Regions from separate parts of the Homo sapiens genome. Here region 2 is linked to region 1. The links come from fine-mapping of genetic effects on gene expression. A gene starts in region 1. The other region holds a variant in brackets. All regions are shown on one strand. Distances are between the middles of the regions. Region 1 holds the start of STK10 (serine/threonine kinase 10). Region 2 overlaps STK10 (serine/threonine kinase 10).

What was found.
Region 2: its variant is fine-mapped to the expression of STK10 in whole blood (TOPMed, PIP above 0.99).

The regions. Positions count from the first base shown.
Region 1 is chr5:172,184,838-172,193,164 of GRCh38, forward strand. It overlaps STK10 (serine/threonine kinase 10), which reads right to left and starts at 3,387. Exons shown (of 19, transcript NM_005990.4): 1 at 3,050-3,387. The coding sequence starts at 3,205. RefSeq lists enhancers at 120-169, 1,210-1,259, 1,530-1,579, 2,240-2,319, 3,372-4,147 and silencers at 2,780-2,859, 2,990-3,039, 3,340-3,699.
Region 2 is chr5:172,057,152-172,065,478 of GRCh38, forward strand. It overlaps STK10 (serine/threonine kinase 10), which reads right to left. Exons shown (of 19, transcript NM_005990.4): 13 at 7,569-7,661; 14 at 3,988-4,117; 15 at 198-322. Among named protein-coding and RNA genes, the nearest start is that of FBXW11, 55 kb to the left of the region's middle. The variant C/A (reference allele first, on the strand shown) is at 3,916.

The DNA of each region.
Region 1 (8,327 bases):
TTTAGTAGAGGTGGGGTTTCACCATGTTGCCCCAGCTGGTCTCAAACTCCTAACCTCAAGTGATCCACCCGCCTCGGCCTCCTGAAGTGCTAGGATTACAGGCGTGAGCCACAGCACCTGGCCCTGGAGTCACTTTTTTAAAAACTGACTTTCCACGTGCTTTGGAGAACCAAGAGGAGACAGTATCGATTGTGGATCGGATGAGTTCCTTTGTATGAAACTTTCAGAGTAGCAGGGGAGTCTTAAGGGACTAAAGCAGGAGGAAACACAACTGAAAATGACAAGGGGAAATCTTACCAGCATGAAAGCAAAGTTCTGCGTTTAAGTTTAAAGGAAGATGAACCCTGTGAAGCCAGGACACACTGCGGGGAAGGGGACAAGAATGCAATTGAAAGCCCCTAACGGAGAAAAAAAAAAGCCCATATGTTTGTTTTGTTTTGTTTTGTTTTTGAGACAGAGTCTCGCTCTGTCGCCAGGCTGGAGTGCAGTGGCGCTATCTCAGCTCACTGCACCCTCCACCTCCCTGGTTCAAACGTTTCTCTTGCCTCAGCCTCCTGAGACGCTGGGATTACGGGCATGCATCACCATGCCCGGCTAATTTCTGTATTTTTAGTAGAGACAGGGTTTCACCATGTTGGCCAGTATGGTCTGAATTTCCTGACCTCATGATCTGCCTGCTTCAGCCTCCCAAAGTGCTAGGATTACAGGCGTGAGCCACCACGCCCGGCCCAAAAAACCCATATGTTTAGCATACGCTAAAAACACCAACTGAACCTTCTGGAGAAAGTGGGTCCTGTGGTGAGCTGACCACAGGGGTCCAGCTGCCCTCACAGTAGTCAGAGCACAGCTGCAGGAGCAGGCTCTGTCTAAGGCAGTCAAGGACACTGGCAGTGTCCAGAGACAGTTGCAAGGCTGAGGATCGTTCTCTGGTGCCACCAGGAAGAAGATGCAGCTCTGAGGAGAGTAAAGAAAAGACGTGCTGAGGACAGGGTGAGCTGGCTGCCCTCAAATATGGGCAAGGCCCTCAGGCAAAGGAGGACAGCAAGTCGGGGCAGTCCAAAAGCACTGCCTCTCGGATCACAAGACCTCTCCCTACCCCATAACAGGAAGTGTGGGCTCAGAGGGGAGGTGGCAAGGAAACAAAACAGGCACCAGGCCAGGCACAGTGGCTCACGCCTGTAATCCCAACACTTTGGGAGGCCGAGGTGGGTGGATCAACTGAGGTCAGGAGTTCGAGACCAGCTTAGACAACATGGTGAAACCCCGTCTCTACTAAAAAAACAAAAATTAGCCAGGCATGGTGGTGTGTGCCTGCAATCCCAGCTACTTGGGAGGCTGAGGTAGGAGAATTGCTTGAACCCAGGAAGTGGAGGTTGCAGTGAGGGCCGAGATCAAACCACCGCACTCCAGCTTGGGCAATAGAGTGAGACTCCGTCTCACAAAAAATAAAAATAAAAAAAGACACTGAGTGGGCCTGGTTGGTCTCAAAATTGCCACCGCTCCAGGTCAGGCAGGGTGGCTCACCGCTGTAATCCCAACACTTTGGGAGGCTGAAACGAGCTGATTTCATGAGCTCAGGAGTTCATGACAAGCCTGGGCTACGTGGCGAAACCCCAAGTCTACAAAAAATACAAAAATTAGCCGGGCTGTGGTGTGCACCTGTAGACCTAGCTACTCCGAAGGCTGAGGCAGGAGAATTGCTTGAGCCCAGGAGGCAGAGGTTGCAGTGAGCCGAGATCGGGCCACTGCACTCCAGACTGAGCAACAGAGGGAAACCCTGTCTCAAAAAAAAGAAAAGAAAAAAGAAAAAACGCCACCACTCCAAGCCTCTAGGGCAGTACTTCTCAAACCTATTTGCTTAGGAATCACCTGGGATCTTATTAAAACGTAGACTCTAATTCAGCAGGTCGGGGCTGGGCATGAGATTGTTCACTTCTGACAAGCTCCCAAATGATGCTATTATAACACCGGTCATCTAGGAACTACTTCGGTAACTAGGCGATAGACCACTTCCAAGTCAGAGGAGAAGGCCTGGAGAAGCCTTCTCTGTGGTCCAGCCTCATAGAACGGCAATCCTAGGGTCAGAGTGCCCTACAAGCTACAGGAGCCCCAAGGAGGAGGATAGTGGCTTAGAAGAGAGGTGCTCTCCTGGAGGTATACACCAATTTAACAAGTGGGCGTCTCCCAGTAAAAATTTTCTTAGGGGAAAGGGGGGAGTCAAGCTGTAGGTGTTGGCTCCCTAAAACAACTCACCACCTCAGAATTAGCTCCCAGGAGCAGAAACCAACGTCCTGCTGCCACACTTCTCTAGACTCAATCAGCTCTGCCCCACCCACTCCACAAAAGCTCTCTGCCGCGTCTTCCTCTAGGGGAGAGGTGACTGCAGGCTGGGAGACTCCCCAGCTGTGACTCAGACCGACGGAATCAAATCTGTTCCCCCAGGCTCAGCATTCACCAGATCCTGACCTCCCCCTCTGACCAGCCCCAACCCACCTTTCCAAGCCCCACCTCTCAGTCCATGGGCCACCCCTCGCCCACCCCACTTCCCTGTCTCTGGCTCATCTTCAGATGTGTCCCTAGCTCCCAACCCGTCCAAGCGCAGCCGAGTTTCTCGGTCCACATCGCCTCGATATTCCCACAGCATCTGTGGTCTCTCTTAAAAAAAAAAGTGTGCCCGTATCGCCGTTTTACGGAACGTCCCTGGAAGGTCCCTCGAGTGGCCCTCTCGGATGCTGAGGTCCTGTCAACGCCCCTTTGTCTCCCCGTGCGGCGCCGAGCGCAGTGCAGGACACACAGGAAGTGCTCCGAAACAGGGCTAGGGTGGGGGCGGCAACCGTGCCCGGAGGGGGCGCCCAGAGCGCAGGGACTCGGCCGGGCCGAGTGATGTTCCCCCCAAAAAACAAGAGTCATCGGGATGAGGGCCAGGGACCCCGAATTCAGCGCCGGGCAGCCCTCGGAGCCGGAGCCAGGCTGGCCGGGTCCGGCTCAGGCATCCCTTCCTTCCGGAGCCCCTCGACGCGCGTCCGGCCACCCACCTCAGCGCCCTCACCTTGTAAACCTTGCCGAAGGCGCCGTCGCCCAGCTCGCCCACGATCTCCCACACCTCGTTGGGGTCCAGGTCGCGGCGGACGTGCTCATATTCGCGGGACTTTCTCTTCTCGAAGGTAGACAGGCGCAGGATGCGGCGGAAATTGGCAAAAGCCATGGCCGGGGGCGCGGTGGCGCCGGCTCGGGCTCGGGCTCGGGCTCGGGCTGTGGCTTCGGCGGCCGCGAGGAGAAGGAGGAGGAGTTGGAGGACGCCGCGTCTCTCGGGGTTCTCCCCAGACCCGCCTTTCCCCGCAGCCCGACCTCGGTCAAGTGTGCCCTGGGCAGCGCCGCGCCGGGAGCACCCGGAACCGCGCAGGCGGCGGCGTGCCCGCCCCCGCCCCCGCCCTGTCAGGTCCCCAGGGCCGCCTCCCTTGTGCCGGCCTCGCAGCTCCTGCCCGGCCCAGCCCTGCCTGCGAGAGCCTCGGACCCGTTCCAGGGGACCGTCCCCGCGCCCGCCCACCGGCCCGGCTCCACCCGCCGCTCCCCGGCAGAGCCCCGGGACCCCCTAATTGGCTGCGGGCGCTCCCCGGCTCCGCCCGTCGCCGCAGGGCACTCTGGAAACTGTAGTCCCCCCACACCACGCTCCGCGAGCCGCGGGCTGGGCTTTGGGGAAGCTTCGGGGACCGCTCGGTGGGACCGCTCATGGACTCAGGAGCCCGCCCGCCGCGCCGCGTGGCTCCCAAAACTTTTATGGGAGCAAGCGGGACGGCGACTTGGCATTTCGCGAGAGCCCACGGATCGTTGTCAGCGCCCAGAAGGTGAACCTGCACTCGTTCATTTAATCCTCCCGCAGCTATTCCGCTAGGCTGCCCTCGCCCCCACTTTTCCGATGGGGACGCCGGCAGGCGAGGGCACTCGCCCCAGGCACACACGCTGGCTGCCCGTCTGCTGCGGGTTCCTCGGCGCGGTGCTGCCTCCTAGTGTGCGACGGGCAACGCCGGTGCAGCCGCGGCCAGTCCCTGCAGGGCCCGGCTTCCCGGCGCGGTCCTTTCCAGGGGCTCCCCGTCCACGATCCACAAACCTGCCAGGATTAGAGGGCTGGGAGAAAGAGCTCCTTTGGCACTGATTTCTCTTATGTTTCCTGATGGGTTTGCGGATGTATTTGCATATTAAATAAAAACTTTATTCTAATTTTTAATTTCCTAGTTTCAAAAAAGATGAGCGCACTACATACAGATCAAACTAAAGTCTTCTTTGAGCACCTTCATTCTCGATCCTGGCTACTTGAGTCACTTCACTGCTACTGTTGCCTGTTTGTCCTATAGACGGTTATAACATGCTTTTACCTGAATCTAAGGAGAGTGCTGGGGGTGGGGGGGGGGGGCGGGCAGTCTGCAAGGGTTATTATTTGGACCGTGTCATAAACAAGTTGAGTCTTCGCAAATGTCACAGTTCAATAGCTCCAACCCCAGAGAACGGCTGTGTTGAGGTGTTTTCGCCCCTTCCTCGGTGCTTTGTTCGAAAACATCCTTTGAACAGTGTGCAAACACCAAGCATGGTTTTCCACTGGGAAAGCCAGCTCAAGAAGCCTGCGATGCTGGTAGTGGTCGGCGCAGAGGGTGTCCTGGTTGCTAAGCCGTTCGGAATGTTTCCACAGCTGCAGGAGTGCCTGGAATTGTAGAGGGTCTTTAAAAGAAGGAAACGCCGCTCGTCGCTGACCGTTCTCATTGAGTCAGGCGCTGTCTGAACCTCCCAAAACATGCTGAAAGGCAGGTCTTTCATTTGTTTCAGACCATTTGGCCAACTGTACGAAGCGGGTGGGGAGACCAAGAGGGTTGCTTCCATACTAGGAGATGAAGGCTCTGACTCCACGAAAGCTGTAGGCCTGGAGGGCTCTGACCAGCTCTGAGAGCTCCAGAAAAGCAAGCAAGCGAGAGAAAGAGAGAGAGAAAGGAAAGAGAGAAAGAGAGAAAGAAAGAAAGAGAAAGGGAAAGGAAAGGAAGAAAGAGAGAAAGGAAAGAGAGAAAGAGAGAAAGAAAGAAAGAGAAAGGGAAAGGAAAGGAAGAAAGAGAGAAAGAAAAAGGAAAGGAAGAGAAGGAGAGAGAAAGAGGGAGGGAGGGAGGGAAGGAAGGAAGGGAGGGAGGGAGGAAGGAAGGGAAAGAAAAACGGAGAGGTTCATTCATTCAATAACACTAAGTCAAAGAAGCCAGACACAAAAGGCCCTGTGTTCTATAAATTTCCATTTATATGAAATGTCTGGAAAAGGCAAATCCATACAGACAGAAAGTAGATTAATGGTTGCCTGGAGCTGGGTGTGAAATGGGAATTAACTGTACATGAACAATAAACAGTCTAATTGGGGTGATGAAAATGTCCTAAAACTGCACAATGGTGACAATTTCATAATTTGGTAAATTTGCCAAAAATAATTGAATTTTAAACTTTCATTTTTGTAAATGGATGAATTTTATGTGTAAATTATACCTCAATAGCATTGTAAGAAATACATTGAGGTTCAATAGAATCAAAGCTACTTCTTTGAAATAACTAATAGACAAGACTAGTCAAAGAAAAAGAAAAAAAGGGTCGGGCACGGTGGCTCACACCTGTAATCCCAGCATTTTGGGAGGCCAAGCTGGGTGGATCACCTGAGGTTAGGAGTTCAAGACCAGCCTGGCCAACATGGCAAAACCCCAGCTCTACGAAAAATACAAAACTTAGCCGGGCGGGGTGGTGCACGCCTGTAACCCAAGCTACTTGGGAGGCTGAGGCAGAAGAATCACTTGAACCCAGAAGATGGAGGTTGCAGTGAGCCGAGATCGTACCATTGCACTCCATCTAGCCTGAGCAACAGAGCAAGACTCCGTCTCAAAAAAAAAAAGAAAAGAAAAAAAAAAAATTGGTGCAAGAAAGAAATATTCACTGGAAGAAATAAAAAATGAAAAGAGAACATCAGATTAGATACTGTAGAAATTTTGATAATCATAAAGTGATATTTTAGACAAATTTATGTGAATAAATGTTTTAATTTACATAAAATGGGTAATTATTGAGAAGAAAATATAAATGATAGGTAAAAGATAATTTCAATAAGAAATAAAAACCTAAATAAACTAGTAACCAATAAAGAAATCAAATCAAGAATCAGGCCGGGCACAGTGGCTCATGCCTGTAATCCCAGCACGTTGGGAGGCTGAGGCGGGTGAATCACCTGAGGTCAGGAGTTCGAGACCAGCCTGGGCAACATGGTGAAACTCTGTCTCTACTAAAAATACAAAAATTAGTCGGGTGTGGTGGTGCGTGCCTGTGGTCCCAACTACTCATGAGACTCAGGCACAAGAATCCCTTCAACCTAGGAGACGGAGGTTGCAGTGAGCCGAGATCACACCACTGCACTCGAGCCTGGGCAACACAGTGAGACTCTGTCTCTAAACAAAAACAAACAAACAAAAACCCAAAAAACAACAACCACAAAAATCAAGAATCAAAAGCTTGTTCTTGGTGAAAGACATCAGTCTGTGTGGTTTTACAAATAATTTCTTTCTTTATATAAATTATTTTAAAAGATAGAAAATGAAGGAAATCTGCCAATTTATTTTATAAGATGAGTTTTACTATTACTAGATAAGGACAGTAAAAGAAAATTGTAAGCCAGGCACAGTGGCTTACACCTGTAATTCCAGCACTTTGGGAGGCTGAGGTGGGAGGATCACTTGAGCCCAGGAGTTCCATACCAGCCAGAGCTATAAAGTGAGACCCTGTTTCTACAAAAAGTCAAAAAATTAGCCAGGCGTGGTGGTGCACACCAGTGGTCCCAGCTACTCAGGAGGTTGAGGCAGGAGGATTCCTTGAGCCCAGGAGGCCGAGGCTGCAGTGAACAGTGATCTCACCGCTGCACCAGCCTGGTCTCCAGTGAGACCCTGTCTTAAAAAGGAAGGGAAGGAGAGGAAAGAGAGAGAGAGAAAGAAAATTGTAGACTAATTTCATTTCATTTTTTTTTTTTTTTTTTTTTGACAGAGAGAGTCTTGCTGTGTCGCCAGGCTGGAGTGCAATGGTGTGATCTCACCTCACTGCAACCTCCACCTCCCAGATTCAAGCGATTCTCCCGCTTCAGCCTCCCAAGTAGCTGGGACTACAGGAACGTGCCACCACGCCCGGCTAATTTTTGTATTTTTAGTGGAGATGAGGTTTCACCATGTTGGCCAGGATGGTCTCAATCTCTTGACCTCGTGATCCGCCCGCCTCAGCCTCCCAAAGTACTGGGATTACATGTGTGAGCCATCACGCCCGGCCTAATTTCAGTTCTTAAAAAGACAGGGAAAATACAAATGCTAGCAAGATCAAACCAGAGGTGAATAAAAATATCGTAACCACAAAAGGTTTATCCAGGAATAAAAGAATGGTTCTACATCAGAAAATCTACTGTAATAGCACTGCATTGGCAGAGTAAAGGAGAAAAATCACATAGTCTTAATAGTCACAGAAAAAGCATTTTATAGTATTCTTAGGTTGGATTCCCTTAGAGACTGACCCTGAGGCAAGGATTTGAGTGTAAGTGGTTTATTTGGGAGTGAGTAGGGAGTAGAAAATTAAGACAGAGGAGGGGCTGGGCACCATGGCTCACACCTGTAATCCCAACACTTTGGAAGGCTGTGGTGGGAGGATAGCTTGAGGCCAGGAGTTCAAGACCAGCCTTGGCAATGTAGCAAGATCCTATCTCTACAAAAAATACAACGTGGTAGCACATGGGCATAGTCCCAGCTATGAGGAGGTGGAGGTGGGAGGATAGCTTGAGCCTGGGATTCAAGGCTGCAGTGAGGTATGACCATACCACTGCACTCCAGCCTAGGAGACAGAGTGAGATCCTGTCTCAAAAAAAAAAAAAAGAAAAAAGAAAAAAAAAATTAATGTCAGGGCACAGTGGCTCATACCCGTACTCCCAGCACTTTGTGAGGCCAAGGCGGGTGGATCACTTGAGGGCAGGCATCAAGACCACCCTGGCCAACATGGTTAAACCTCATCTCTACTAAAAATACAAAAATTGGGCTGGGTGCAGTGGCTCACGCCTGTAATCTCAGCACTTTGGGAGGCCGAGGCAGGCGGATCACAAGGTCAGGAGATGAAGACCATCTTGGCTAACACGGTGAAACCCGTGTCTACTAAAAATACAAAAATTAGCCGGGAGTGGCGGAGTGTGCCTGTAGTCCCAGCTGCTGGGGAGGCTGAGGCAGGAGAATGGTGTGAACCTGGGAGGTGGAGCTTGCAGTGAGCCGAGATCGCGCCACTGCACTCCAGCCTGG
Region 2 (8,327 bases), 130 kb before region 1:
TATTCCTAGCCCCTTGAGCTGAAGCAGGACGCCCCTGGAGAACCTCCTGGGGCCTCACTGCAGCCAGCCCTGGCTCCTCTTGGGGGCACTTGTCATCCAAAGTGTGCACCCAAGAGGTGCCCCATCACATACAGCCTCATGGCTCTCCCAGGTCGGCCCGGCAGCAGATCCGAGCCCCGTGCCACCGGCAGCCTCACCTTCTCATGCTTGCGCAGCAGCTCGTGCCGCTGGAGGAAGTACTGGTCTTTGAGCTGCTGCTTCACCAGCTGGTGCCTCTCCTGCAGCTGGTGCTCTTCCATCTCCCACAGGGCTGCTTCCCGGTCTGCAGAGGACATGCCACCGAGCTGGTGAGGTGCTGACAACCAGAGACTCGACAGGCCCCCTGCCCCCCACCTCTGCCTGGCCTCCTCATGCTGGAGATGATAACCAACCTGCTGGGCTCAGGAATTGCCACATGTTCTACCTCATTAGACCATGTTGGCTGATCTGAGCTGAGGCCTAGAAACTTCCTTTAAGCCTAAGGAATGAGAGCTCCCAGGAGCATGGTATAGCAGGAAGTATTCAAAGTCAGGAGCCACAGAAACTGCAGCTATAGGCTGGAACCCAGCTCCATCGGTGGGATTAGGAATGGAGAGGTTCTCTAGGCATCAGCTGCCATGTCTGCCAGATGGACACAGCTATACCATGGAGGGAGGGGACGTCCTTGGGAGAAACTTTGAAGTGCAAAGTTTCCACACTGCATCTCTACCTTCCTGATGGGCACCTGGGAAGAGCTCAGATGGAGACCCCATGAAGAAGACAGAATGGCCTCTTGTCACTATTTCCTCCTTTGAAAAATGGGTGAGATCCTCCTTGTCTCCTGCACGTCCCAGGCATGCGTTATGAAGACAATGAAGATACTGGCATCTTAACACTGGAGGTCTATTAATCCACCCCTGTGCACAGCACCCGGGTGGGGACCTGGGGTCAAAGGGAGAATCTCACGCCCTTCGAGACAGGAGATTATGCTTGGCTCAGTGCGAATGTTGTTTATTTCACTGCATTCCTGTTCCGTGCAAAATGGTATCTGCTTTTGGTATATCAGAATAGTGATTCTGGCTTCCACCCCAAAATCAGAACCACAGTTCTGTAAATAGGACGGTTCTTACCAACATCATGGGATAGGAAAAGGAAGTGAGGGCTTTTCTCAAAACAACTGTGCTCTATTCAGAATATTGAAAACTCAAGAACCCTGTTTTGCTGATCCACATCAAATAATAAGAGGTTTATCTTGCTTAACTGCACTGGTCATCAAAGGCCTGGATGAGGCCTGTTTTATAAATGAGCCAAAAATTGCCCTGGGATATTGGCCTCGTGTTGTTTACTTCCTCACAGCAGGCTTGGACCGTCAAAAGTCCACAGGCACCAAACTCAAATTTGTACCCATCCTCTTGTTATTTTTAAAACATAATATGTACGGCCAGGCACAGTGGCTCACACCGTAGTCCCAGCATTTTGGGAGGCTGAGGTGGGCAGATCGCTTGAGCCTAGAAACCTGAGACCAGCCTGGGCAAAATGGCGAAACCCAGTCTCTACTAAAAATATAAAAATCAGCTGGGTGTGGTGGTGTGCACCTGTAATCACAGCTGCTCAGGGGCCTAAGGCATGAGAATTGCTTGAACAGGGGAGGCAGAGGCTGCAGTGAGCCAATATCGTGCCACTGCACTCCAGCCTGAGTGACAGAGTAAGACTTGGTCTCAAAAAACAAAAACAAAAAAAATGTATATAGTTACATAAAAAAGCTCAAACAGGGCCAGGCGCGGTGGCTCATGCCTGTAATCCTAGCACTTTGGGAGGCCGACGCAGGCAGATCACAAGGTCAGGAGATTGAGACCATCCTGGCTAACACGGTGAGACCCCGTCTCTACTAAAAATACAAAAAAAAAAAAATTAGCTGGGCATGGTGGCGGGCGCCTGTAGTCCCAGCTACTCAGGAGGCTGAGGCAGGAGAATGGCGCAGTGGCTCACACCTGTAATCCCAGCACTTTGGGAGGCCAAGGCAGGTGGATTGCTTAAGGTCAGGAGTTCAAGACCGGCCTGGCCAACATGGTGAAATCCCATCTCTCCTAAAAATATAAAAAATTAGCTGGACATGGTGGCGCAAAGCTGTAATCATCCCAGCTATGAAGGAGGCTAAGGCAGAAGAACTGCTTGAACCTGGGAGGTGGAGGTTGCAGTGAGCTAAGATTGTGCCACTGCACTCCAGCCTGGATGACACAGTGAGACAGCGAGACTCTCCATCTCAAAAAAAAAAAAAAAAAAAAAAGCTCAAACCAAGCAGATATTTAGCCATTTGGAGCCTGCCTACTTTGCATACCCCATGAAACTGCACCTAACATCTGCCAGCCATAGAGATGGAAGACCCAAGGGCTCCATAAAGACCCCAAGCCACCGTTGCCCTTTGCAGTTCTCTGACCCAGAGACGCCCCGTCTGAGCTCCCCACGCTGGACGACATCATCTAGACATGTGAGCCCCCTCTCAGTCCCCTTCTTGCCCAAGAGTTCCTTTGCCCTCTTCCCCTGCTGGATGGTGGCCCGCACCATCATCTCCAGAAAGCCTCATTCTGTAAGGGACCCCCTCAGCGTGTCAACTTGTCAAAATGCCCCCCAAGCAAAGCTGCTGGTATGCTACTGCCATCTTGTGGTCATTTATTTTTCCTCAATCAGCCCAGAAATCCCTTGAACTCCCAACAGCACCAGGGTAGGCCCGGCTTCCTGATATTGTCATCCAAGGCCCAGCTCTATCACCCATTAACTGTGCAACCTCAGTGCTATGATCTAAACGTTTGTGTCCCCTCCCCAAATGTGTATGTTGGAATCTTAACCCCTGAGGTGAGGGTATTAGGAGATGGGGCTTTTTGGGAGGTGATTAGGTCATGAGGGTGGAGCCCTCGTGAATGGAATTAGTGCCTTTTTATTAATAAAAGAGACCCCAGGCTGGGCACGTTGGCTTATGCCTCTAATCCCAGCACTTTGGGAGGCTGAGACAGGCAGACCACTTGAGCCCAAGACTTTGAGACCAGCCTGGACAACACAGAAGACCCCATTTACACAAAAAACACAAAAATTAGCCAAGCGTGGTAGCACGTGCCTGTAGTCCCAGCTACTTGGGAGGCTGAAGTCAGAGGACTGCTTGAGCCTCAGAGGCAGAGGTCACAATGAGCCATGACTGTGCCACTGCACTCCAGCCTTGGCTACAGAGCTAGACCCTGTCTCAATAAATAAATAAATAAACAAAAATCCCCAAAACCCAAAAAACCACAAAACCCCAAAAACCCAGAGACCCCAGAGCTAGTCTCCCTTCCACTATGTGAGGATACAGTGAGAAGGTGCCATCTATGAAGCAGAGAGTAAGTCCTCTCCAGACCACAAATGTGCTGGCACCCTGACTGTGGATTTCCCAGCCTCCAGAAGTGTGGGAAATGAATGTCTGTTGTTGATAAGCCACCCAGTCAGTGGTATTTTGTTACAGCAGCCTGAATGAACTAAGATACTTGGCCAAAGAATAGTAACTCTCCAAGCCTCAGTTTCCTCATCTACAGAAATGGGGATAACCTAGGCCCTGCCTCACAGTGTTAGGTGAGGATTTGATGAGATAAAGGTAGAAAAATGGACTGGCACATGGCCTGGCAGAGTGGTTGCTCAGTCCACGCCAAGCTCTCTCCACCTCCCGTAAATCCAGCTCACTTATTAACATACTCTGCCTGTTTCTTTCTTTTCTTCTCTTGACTTCTGGAATAATCTCAAATAGTCTTGGTGACAACTGGTGTCCTTACCTCGTTCCTTACTTCAAGTGGGGCTTTTCCCCAGGTTTCCCCATGAAGAATGATGTTTAGTTTTGGGGATGGAGAAGGCCTGGGAGGTTCTTGTTGCCCA[C/A]CCCACTTCCCAGGGCTGGGATGTCCACAGCGACTCTGGGCCAAGACAGCGCTGCCACTTGCACACCCCCACCTCGAAGGAGCTCCTGCTTCTTCATGAGGCACTCGCGCTCCTTGTCACAGATCTCCCGCCTGTTGTCGGTGGTGAGCCTCTTCATGGCCAGCTCCAGGTCCTCCTTCTGCTTGGCTACAAAGTCCCGGTCCTGTGGGGAGAGAGGAGGACAGGCCTTTATCCAGAGCCGGCTTGGGCACCTCCATGTCTCTTCCTATTATGGGAGAAAAGCCCGCGTGATCAGAGAAGAAAATGCAGGAACAGAAAAGAAATTGGTGGAGGAGAAATTTAAGGGAGACTTAGAGACGCATCAACCAATTTCAACATGTGGGCTTCATCTGGATCCTGGATCAAAGAACAGTCTCGGTCTGTCACCAGAGCTGGAGTGCAGTGGCATGATCTCGGCTCACTGCAACCTCTGCCTCCCGCGTTCAAGTGATTCTCCTGCCTCAGCCTCCTGAGTAGCTGGGATTATAGGTGAGCACCACCACTCCTGACTAATTTTTGTATTTTTAGTAGAGACGGGGTTTCACCATGTTGGTCAGGCTGGTCTCAAACTCCTGACCTTGTGATCTGCCTGCCTCGTCCTCCCAAAGTGCTGGGATTACAGGAGTGATTGGAAACTGGAATACTGACAACATGACGTTGTTCAGCAATTATTGTTGAATTTGCTAGGTGTGTTTATGGTATGGTAGTTATTTCTGTGATGTTTGACAGGTAAAATAATATGATGTCTGGGATTTGATTAAAAAGAATACCTTGGGGTCAGGGAGTGAATGAGTGGACATGAGGTGATATTACTGAGATTAGGTGACAGGTATATGGTAGTTCATTATACCTATTCCCATGTTACTTTTCTTTTTTCTTTTTTTTTTTTTGAGAGAGAGTCTCGCTCTGTCACCCAGGCTGGAGTGCAATGGCGTGATCTCAGCTCGCTGCAACCTCAGCCTCCCAGGTTCAAGTGATTCTCCCATCTCAGCTTCCTGAGTAGCTGGGACTACAGGTGCACACCACCACACCTGGCTAACTTTTGTATTTTTAGTAGAGACGGGGTTTCACCATGTTGGCCAGGCTGGTCTTCAACTCCTGGCCTCAAGTGATCCACCCGCCTCGGCCTCCCTATTCCTGTGTTTTTAATTTTCCATAATAAAGGGTAAAAAAAATTAAAATAAAAAAATTTAGAAACCACGGAATTAGTAAAACTCTCCACTCATCTTATCCCCCAGAGTTGGCAGCTGCGGTAGGTATGTCTATACAAGTGTATCTATAGCTATTGTTATTGCTGTGTTACAAAAATTATTAAAAAGGGCTCAAAGAGATATGTGTGCACCCAAGTTCACAGCAGCATTATTCACAACAGTCAAGGGATGAAAACAGCCCACGTGTCCGTCGATAGATAAATGGATAAATCATGTGTTATATCCACACAATGGAATATTATTCAGCCTTAAAAAGGAAGGAAATTCTGACACATGCAACAACATGGATGAACCTTGAGGACATTACGCTAAGTGAAATAAGCCAGTCACAAAAGGACAAATATTCTATGATTCCACTTACATGAGGTACCTAGAGTAGTCAAATTCATAGGGAAAGCAGAATAAAGTTACCAAGGGTTGGAGGAGAAGAAATGGAGAATTACGGTTTGATGGGTGCAGAGTTTCAGTTTTACAAGACAAGAGAGTTCTGGAGATAGATGGCGGAGATGGCCGCACAATGTGAATAGGCTTAACGCCACTACACTGTACACTTAATAATGGTAAAGATGGTAAACTTTATGTTATGACTATTTTACCACAATTTTAAAAAATTATTTTAAGAAATCTTTCCATGTTATAATGTGATCTTCTGGCCAGGTGCAGTGGCTCATGCCTGTAATCCCAGCACGTTGGGAGACTGAGGCAGGCGGATCACCTGAGGTCAGGAGTTCGAGACCAGCCTGGCCAACATGGTGAAACCCTAACTCTATTAAAAATACAAAAATTAGCTAGGCGTGATGGCAGGCACCTGTAGTCCCAGCTACTTGGGAGGCTGAGGCAGGAGAATTGCTTGAACCCAGGAGGCAGAGGTTGCAGTGAGCTGAGATCGTGCCACCGCACTCCAGCCTGGGCAACAGAGTGAGACTCCATCTCAAAAAAGAAAAAAAAAAAACTGGGATGAAACTCCCAGTTTTGAAACTCCGTCTCAGATAAATAAATAATGTGATCTTCTATCACATGTGTTTGAATGGCTGAAAATATTTCATGCTATGGATGTTATTTATCCAATAAACAACAGGGTGTCTCTAGGTTTTATCTATTTTAAATAGCGCTACTTCATATTCTGGTAGCTAAGTATTTGTGAACCTCTGTGATAACTCCTTCAGGATTTTCAGATTCCCTCAGGATTTCTAGAAGCAGAAAATCCAAGCCAAAGGATGTGTACATCTTCAAAGCTCTCCATGCAACTGCCTCCTCCAGGCCAATCTGCTGTCCCTCTGCGTGGATGAGGGCCTGTGTGCCCCGCCCTCACCAGTCCTGCGTTCTCTTCCTAATCGTGCTGTAATGGGACAGACAGGTCATAGGGTGTCCCGGAGAGAACACAAGCTTGAGGCCTCGACCCCCTCCCTGAATGTGAACTCAGCAATGTTACCTCTCTCAGCCTTTGTTTCCTCTTCTGCGAATGGGAAAATGAACAGCTCCTACCATAGTAAGCTATGAATGCTGAAGCAGGTAATATACAAAGCATTTCTAAATATGGACTCAAAAATTCTTTGCTTTGGGGGCTGAGGAAGCAGAACACACAAAGACCCCCTCGTGGGGGAAAATAGGAGCATTCCGGCAAAGGATGAAAAGAAGGCTGGGGAGGCCGGCCAGGGCACAGCAAAGAGGCGGCGCTTATCTTAGGGACAATGTGGGAGCCACTGAAGGGTTTTAAGGCACAGGGCTGTGGGGGGAAGGGTGCTATTATCAGACTTGGAATTCACATTGATCACACGCAGGCAGGAGAGAAGAAACTGCAGGGGAAAAACAGCTACAGGAAGCCTCGCTGGGAGGCCACTGGACAGTGGCTGGGGGATCATGGAGATGGTGACGAGTTCATAGATCCAGAGACAGGAGATAAGAAATATACATACCATGCTTCTGGAGGTGACGAAGGACTGGAGGGAAAGGAGGCGTCAGGAATGATGGGCCAGAAAGGAAGGAAAATGGCACCCCCTCAGAGCATAACAGGACCAGGTCTGGGACATCACAAGTTTGATGTCCTTCAGACTTAAAAGATGCCAAGTGGGCAGGGGAATATACTGGGTTGGTCAAGGAGATGTGACTTACAAATAAATAACCCTAAAACAAGGTAGGAGGTGCTAAGGGTTTGGGAGGTGGTCAATGTAAAGTGTTGGGGTATCCAGAGATGGAAGAGCTTACTTCCAGATGGAGGCAGGGCAATCGAGGAAGGCTGCATGGAGGAGGGGATAATGGGGCCATGAAGGATGAGGCCAGATTTAGGTATTCAGAACGGGGTATTTGAGGGGCAGGGATTGGGCAAAGGCAGAGAGGGGGCCTGGTCACCATTCCAGGTCTCGCACCAGCCCCTGCGCTCCCCAGCTGAGGCCAGGGACTCACAAGAAGCTGCTTTTTCTGCGTGTGCTCCTCCATCTTCTGCTTCATGCTTTCCTTCCGCTGCTGTCGGGGGAGCTTCTCCACCTCGTTCTTCACCTGCAGCAGAGACAGCAGAGAGTAGCTGGGTCAGGGTCCTCTCCATGCTTCCTACAGTATAATCTTCAACGCAGAACCCCCGGGCCAGAGAAACCAAAGAAGAGGCTCAGCTTTGCAGCGGCCAGCACCCTACGCGGCTCCCCACCAAGCCCCTCTGAGCAGGTGCTCCACACTGGCCTACTCCTGCCTGCCGCTGGTTTCAGCTTCCAACTCCCCCAGAGTGGGCAGGTGCTGTTTTCAGCAGCTTGGTATCCACCCCCCTCTTCTGGTAACAGCACCTCAGTTTCCTGCAGGGAAGTGTTTCTCAACCTTTTTAAAAAATTACAGTCCCTACAGAAGTTCTTTTAGACATTTTTCCCTAATCCCTCTCCCCCCATGAAATACTAGTCCAACAGACAATATCGTCAATCTGACAAACCATTGTCATATTTCAGTTATTTTGCTTCCTTTAGGGTAACACTAGCCGGGCTGAAAATGCACTTTTTTTTTTTTTTTTTTTTGAGATGGAATCAAGCAATTCTCCTGCCTAAGCCTTCCAAGTAGCTGGCATTACAAGTGTGCACCACCACACCTGGCTAATTTTTGTATTTTTAGTAGAGATGGGGTTTCACCATGTTGGCCAGGCTGGTCTCAAACTCCTGACCTCAAGTGATCTGCCTGCCTGGG